2 linked regions of the Homo sapiens genome follow. The protein of the gene in region 1 purifies or fractionates together with the protein of each later gene. This does not show direct contact. Each region holds a gene or a part of one and is shown on either strand. Other genes may lie near its edges.

The links. Proteins that work in one complex are often made in the same cells at the same time.
Region 2: the proteins of FER (region 1) and DNM3 fractionate together in Homo sapiens (co-fractionation; one study listed by BioGRID). This does not show direct contact.

Annotation. Positions count from the first base shown.
Region 1 is NC_000005.10:108,746,707-108,750,696, forward strand, and holds the start of FER (tyrosine-protein kinase Fer), read left to right. Parts: upstream 1-1,190; 5' UTR 1,191-1,294; intron 1,295-2,241; exon of another isoform or gene 2,242-2,287; intron 2,288-3,990. UniProt on the Homo sapiens protein: Tyrosine-protein kinase that acts downstream of cell surface receptors for growth factors and plays a role in the regulation of the actin cytoskeleton, microtubule assembly, lamellipodia formation, cell adhesion, cell migration and chemotaxis.
Region 2 is NC_000001.11:172,407,998-172,411,497, forward strand, and holds part of DNM3 (dynamin-3), read left to right. Parts: 3' UTR 1-3,500. UniProt on the Homo sapiens protein: Microtubule-associated force-producing protein involved in producing microtubule bundles and able to bind and hydrolyze GTP. Most probably involved in vesicular trafficking processes, in particular endocytosis.

The DNA.
Region 1 (3,990 bases):
GAAAATTAACTTCTATTTTAAGAAGTTTACTCACAGAACCACAGTTTGTGCATTTAACAATCACTATGAAATACATATGAAACATTAACCATCATTTTAGAGAACAATTTAAAAACTCCGAAGTAACTACTTTCCTTAACTTTGTCATCCCAACATTCTGGGTATAGGCATTGTTGGAAAAATATAATTAAAAACCAAAATCTCCCAACCCAGAAATCCTCTCCACAAACGTTAGTAGACAAAACACTTTTATTACTGAATAAGCATTAAACGAGACTGTGATACACATCACAGGCAATTTGCTAAGAGATTGCAAAGACAGAAATCTTGCCCTTTTGTATAGCCAAGTATATACGACCCATTACATACACGTTTTCAAGTTGAACAATAACTAGTCCTCAAGTAAGAGGACCTGACATTTGTGACATTAACTTTACTTAATAATTGGGGTGACCATCTGTGTTAGTTAATTGGTTTTATCCAGAGGAAAAACAAACTTCTCCTGTCTTTATGACGGAAGGTAGTTTTGCAACACGGAGCAAGTTGCTCACCGAAGTTACGCTCCTACTCTCTCACAGAAACTGGGAGATAGGGAAGGATGCTACTCCGTTGATATGTGCAGCATTTCAAAAAAAAAAAAAAAAAAAAGGTCCAGAGACATTCCTGACTGAGCATACAGTTGACAAGACCTATCTAGTCCTCAAGTGGATTTATACACATTTCAAAGAGTTGAGAAAGTACTTAACAATTAAGAAAGTACTTAAGTTTTCTAAGACAAATGCTCGGAGAGAAAGGGACGGGAAATCTCATCCTCCATTTTCAATAGGGAGAATTAAGCCTCTTATTTAAAATTTTTATGTTGGTTTTTGTTTATTTAGCTTTAAAACAGTAGACTTAAAAAAAGTCCAACTTAAGATTTATGTTTTTTTATGTGTAGGGCTGTTCTCTACGGTTAAATAAATAACCCTGCTTAGAGAAAATATTCACCACTCTTCTTTGGCTCCTATGTAACTCAGTTTTTGAGAGGGAGGGGAAATACCGGATTGACGCTATGTGGTTCAACCAATGCAAAAGATAACACCGCCTTAAAAAGTCTACTACAGGAACATGGGAGGGTCACACCCTCGAATAATGACGCATACCTATCCTACTGTTACTGATCACCTAGTAATAATCTTGTAGTTCACATTACTCATTTTTCACCAAATTCTTTTGGTGAAGGACGCTTCAGAAACGGCCATCACTGAAGAGCAGACCCGTTTGGGTTCTCCACGCATTCTAGACTCCCGAAGAGGTAAGAATTTATTATAGGGGGCCACTCCCAGGACCTGCTGTATGCTTTTAAACATCCATTACAATTCCAGCATTGAGTTTCTAACATTTTTAGGCAGGCTCAGGCACTGGGAGTACAGGATTGAAAGACAGTTCCCGTCCTTAAGGGACTCAGAGTAAACTGGAGTTGCTGAAAACCATTCTAAAGCAATCCACGTTAATAACAGATACAAGTAAAACGTGGGAACGTACAGGAAAAAGTGACCAATTCTGAGGCTGAAAAGTGCCTATTTTAGGGGTGGGGGCCTCGCGGCCCTAAAGCAGCTTCCCTTCCCGGAGATTTCAGCTCCAGGGATCGCCCAGCGCCCTCCGGGCACACTTAACATTTTAATCACGCCTCCGCCCCCACTCTCCGAATTCCTTTCCGGCTGCCGACCCGCCGAGTAGTCCCTTCCAGGCGGCCTCAGCTTATCATCGCCGGTCCGGCCACTTCCCGGCCGCGGCCAGGCGAGCCTCCCAAAGTTTCCTGTGAGGCCTTCGTCCGTCTCCGGCCCCATCTCACCACGGCAGCCCAGGACACCCGCTAGGGAGGAGCAGGTTACCGAGGCGGGGAGAGCGGCACAAACGCGCAGACCTCGGGACTCCACCCGGGCTGGTGAGCGAGCCCAGAAAGCGGCGACCGCAGCTCCGCGTCTCCACTCCCAGGGCCCGCAGCTTGGGCTAAGCGTGCGCCCACCCAGCCTAGGGCCCAAGTCCTGCCCCTTCGGGGACCGGGCCAATCGGCCGCTCCCCGCCTCCTGGGAGGTAGTGGAGGAGGGGGCTGAGGGCCGGGCGGCTGCGCCCGCCTTCCGCTCTTGCCCATTGGCTGAGGCCTCGAGGGTGCCCGGAGACCGGAGTGCAGCGGGATTGGTTGCAGAGGTTCGTGACAGTGGCGCCTATTGGCTGTGGCAGCCCCCGTGACGCGGGGTGGTGACTGGCTCCGGAGTCTGAGGGGTTCGGGCTTGTCAGGTTCTAGGTAGGTGCGTTTCGCGCCGCCGGCGGTAGGCGCTGTTGCCCGGGGCAACGCGGGGGGAGGGGGGAAGAGGAGGGAAGGCAAGCCTAGAGCGGGGGCAACAATGCCTGCCCGCAGAGGGGCGCCCGGGATTCGGCCAGGGCGTTGGGGGCTGTGCCGAGGCTCTTCCTCCGCCCTCAGCCAGCGCCCCCCCCAACCCCCGTCCCTGGCTGCAGGGTCATCCGCTCATCCTCCCGCCCGCAGCAGAGCATTCCTGGTTGGGGCTTGGGCCGGGCTACACACCCAGCCCCACGAGGGCCGCCCCTCCCACCATCCCGGGACCCGAAGGCTGAGGGGGCGGGTGCCGGCGCGAAAGGGCTGTGGCGGGCGTAGTGGCTCCGCCCCGTCGCGGGGTCTGGGGGCTGATGGGCGTGAGGCGGGGTGGTGGGGGGACTGTGGGCACCACCCAATCTTGCCTGTACCCTCACCCCTTTTCTCGGCGGCACTCATCTGGGCGCCGCCGTCCCGCTACGGGGGCATTCTCAACCCCTGGTATTCCCCCCATCCCTTCCTGCTTCTGGAGCCCCGCAGTCTCCCTTGACCCGCTCGGTCCTCCCCAGCTCTCCTCCTATCTGTCACCTTCTCCCGCTTTTATCCCCCACCTCATCTTTCTCCTCCGGTCTTGGCCAGAGGTGTCCTCCAAGAGTCTAATCAAGAGATAGATCTTAAGTGTGAAGCTAGTGGTGTCGTCGGTAATTTCTGCTCTGTGGTCTCTTTGCCAGTTAGAATTGGGGAGATGTTTGGAGGCACCTTCAGGGGTCATCCTTCTGCCTTACAGTTACCCCTAGGATCTACTTTCTGAATACGCTCATTGGGTTGTGTTGGTAGGGGCAAGGTACTTCTTAAACAAATTGAGGATTGTACTATGAGGTGGGCACTTTGTACGTTTGCGATTTTGCCATCCACTGTAGTGCAATTCAAAATCTAATAATTTGTTACGGCTGGTAGCCTTACATTTTTTTCCTTCGCCTTATGGTTAAAAAAAGAGCAGCTTTTTAACCTTTTTAATTCAGAAGTTGCGTATATTAATGGTTGTCTCACTATCACTTTGACATAAACTGCTGTAAAGGTGTACTCCATTTTCCTTTTCTCCAGATATGTTAAGATAATAAATTTCTCAGATGAGGTTACCATATATAAAAGTGTAGTGGAACATCAATAAGAGAATAGATCAAAACTATTTTAGTGATTAAAGATTAGAAAATACTTTTCAATTCATATGTGGAATGAGAATAGGATAAAAAAAAAAAACTATTGCAAAATCTTTAGTGCAGTATTTGTAGTCCTGGTATATATACCTGTGTTGCCCTTAAGAAGACATTTGTGAGTAGCTCCAGGTTTGTCAGTCGGGAAAGCAGAGTGTATCTTTTTGTAGTCCAGGAAAGCTTTTCTGCTAGTACTTTTGAGCCAAGAGAATTATGCTTCCAAAGATGCTGGGAATATATTAAGAGAGTACATAGGCATACTTCTGTTTTCATCTTTGAAAGACCTTTAGTGAAGATCTGTTTCTCTTCTGCATTGATTGTTGACAGCATTAAATATACATAATCTAAAACTATGTAGTGTCAAGTTGTTGCAGCTTCTGCACTGCTTCAAAGGTTGATGTCTTTAGTTCAGAAGAAATAATTCAAGCTTTGGTAGACAAATCATTTACATTTCATCTTCGA
Region 2 (3,500 bases), on another chromosome or scaffold:
TGGTATGTCAAACCTTTGGGGTTTGACTCAGAAACTGCTAACCTTTTAGAGGCTTTATATGTTGTACTGACCAAGGTAGGTTTGTATAGCAGCCCTATACTTTGGGGATCATTTGCCTACCATGGCATATATTTGAAATTGCTTTGGACAAGTTTTCTAGGCTATCTACCAGGTAGCTCATTAAACGTAATTCTTCAGATATGAGATAGTGGGCTTAGACCTAAGCCATACATATTTCTTTTCCCACATTCTGTTTAGGATGACAGTAATTCTGTTGTCTACCATTAATGCTACTACCTACTCCATAATTGCCTATTTAGCTCCTCTTTTCTTCCTTTTTATTTCATAAGACTGCTAGGAAGTGATTTTTTAAAATTAGGACTCCTTAAGAATAAACTTTTCCAGAAGCACGAGGTAGTTTGCAAAGGAAAAGTCTGCACTGTTTGCTCTAAAGAGCTTCTCCTCATTCCAATGTGTTTTGCTTCATGCTAGAAGCATATGCAACAGTGAATAAAAGCTTCTTTTTTTGTTAATCAGTCAATAAATTTGGCTAATTAGTTTCAGAGTTCAAGGAAGAAGCAAAATATCACATCTCTAGAAGTGTTGGGAAAAATATAATTTCTTTCTTTACTTATATTCACCTCATGGTAGGTTATATTGAAGGCTGACATGGAGAATGTTTACTTTTCTATTTGGCATAGCTAACTACACTTTGATACTAACTCCAGTTTTACTATTATTATTTTGGTTGGAAAAAAAATTCACTCTTTACGTGCTAATTTGTAATCTTGTTTTGTAAGAATTTATCCTACCCTTGAAACAGGCTCAGTGTAACTGTATATCCATTCTAGGCTTTCTTAATAAATCTTGAGGCTATGGGATAATCACATTTAAAGAATGGTTCCTGAAATGAAGTCAGTAGAAATGGCATGGGATAAGAGCAGAGCTCACACTTTTACAGTTGCAGTATTTCAAAGTCCCTATCCAGGTCACTCCAGAAAAGGGTATTGAAACGTTGAAATCTAAAGCAAATTTGCAATTTCTTAAGATTTCTAAAATTTACCAGAACAGTTTAGCCTGGGGGTTAATAGTTAAGTCTTGAGGCTAAGTTTTGGACTACCAAGGACCAGATGATTCACATGTAGGAAACAGCCAGAAGCCAACTGGAATTTTGTGTGCTAACTGTTCCCAGACAGCAGAGCAAGTATTCACTGAGTAGGGGTGTCCCATGACACTATTTCATATTCTACAGAAGTAAATCAGGTTTCACCAACTGAAATGTCTCCCTTTGAAAGTAGCAAACATGATTTGTATGTTAACTTAACTTTAATTTCCTGTGTAGTTTACACCCAGAGCAGATACTCATAAAGTATAAAGTAAAAACTTTTAACCATTATTAAACAGAGAACTTGCCATGTTGAGTGCCATTGTATTGAACTTATTCTAAAGGCTTATGCTAACCCATTTATAATTGGTAAAAATCAGAAAATACAAGATTTACATAAAGGTCATTTCAACTTTTAAGGTTACCAGTGATTGTATAAAAACATCACAATCCTAAATCCTCTCGTATCTCACCCCAAACCCCAAACTGGGGGAAAAAAAGTTAACTCTTTGTGAATGGAACCAATGTGCAAGATACATACTGCATTTTTAAAATAGTGTCTCAGCTAAATGGAAAACTGTTAAGCAAACATCCATAGTAAAACAAATAATCTTCAGTGAGATCTTTTTATAAAACTTCTTGTTTTTAGGATTCCCTTTGCTTCTTCCTTTGAATTCTCTAAAATAGGCAGCTAACGGATTATATACTTCAGGGTTTGGCTTTGTGCTAAATGTGGTTTTGTGTTTTGCTGTATTTCAAAATTTTCCTTCTGTTAAAGGAAAATATTGTGAATAACCACTGGTGTGTTCTTAGATCAGCACAAACCATGTCAAAAAAAATTGGAGATTTTTTTCCAATTTTCCTTCCACTGATCTTAGGCAGTAATAAACAATGGCATTTGTCATCTTTGGCACTTGCTTTTAGATTATAGTCCCACAGTTGCACTGCCCCAATTGTCTACCTTTGTGGGTACATTTTTGTTCTTTACTCCTAAGTTATTTCTCATAGAACCCAGCCTACTCTAGAATTTCAGCAGTGACATTGGAGAATATTTTTAATTTGCTGCAGTACTATGTCATATTATTAGTATGAATCTCATTTCCCAAAGGGTTTGTATTCTGCTAAAAGGAGATGCCAATGTTGAATGAAGTCTGAAACTCTAGTATGTGCATAGTTTGACGTGCAGCATGCACACCAGGCCTTAAGATGGGAATGTAGCTTAATGATTTTCTGTTTCCCATACCATTTCTAATCTTTTGTGTAATTTTCTCTTAACTGATTGCTCTGATATTGTAAACACAATAGATGTAGCTCTATCATGTCTAGCATAATTTAAAAAATCAGTGTTTTTAGGATTTGGGAAAATAAACTGTAAATGTTTATTTGATAGGTAAATATAGTTTTATTGTCACATGCTAAATATTGCATGCATATTGACTAATTGGAATAACCATTTACTCAATTATGGACAGCTTATTGAAATAGTATTGATTTAGAAAAAGTATATTGCATTTCTAAAAAACATCTACCAAGGTTACTCGTCTGAATATTGCTTTTAGCCGTGTTTTATAACATAGACGAGCAGTAGGGTCTGTTTATTAGCAAATTTCCTATTTGTTCCAATACAAACTCACTTTATTCTAAAGTATATTAATGAAACCAGTTCCTGTGATGTAACTGTAAGCCTTCTCGACTTAGACTTAAAAAGTGGTCACATAGATTAATTTTGTGACTTTTTAGTATAGACTGTAGCCATAATTCTCAAATATGAAATGGGACCTAATACCAGTATGTGATAAATGTTGATGTTTTCTGTGTACAAACACATTTTCTATGCATGTGTCTCTGTGTATATGGCATATACCTAGTAAGTATGTTTCTGTAAGTATGTGTATTTTATGTCCATTTGAGTAGGTAGGTAGGTTTTAAAAATACTAGTTAAAATGCCACAAGCATGAGTGTGATTGTATGTGCACTGTGTGTATATATATAAATATATGTATATGTATGGTTGTAAATATCTATGTATACATGTACTTAGTATGTGTGGTATCAGGATATTTTTTAAACTGTGATAATACAACAGATAGCTTTGAATGATCTGCCATAACATGTGGTAACAATAGTTCATTTCTCATAACATATATGAGGTATACAAAATTTTCTAACTCCAGATTGTAGTCATTTTGAGAGGTACAAAGCTCATAATTACCATGACAACATGGTAATGTCCATAGACATTTGTATCTGAATCCACAAGAAGATCTGAATCTAAGAAGGAATTACCTTTGACAATATTTTTCGGTAAGAAGTAAAACCTCTGGAGACCTATCTTTAAGATCTCTAATTGGAATTATAAATTATTTTTGGATTGCTGAGCTGAATCTTAAAAAGC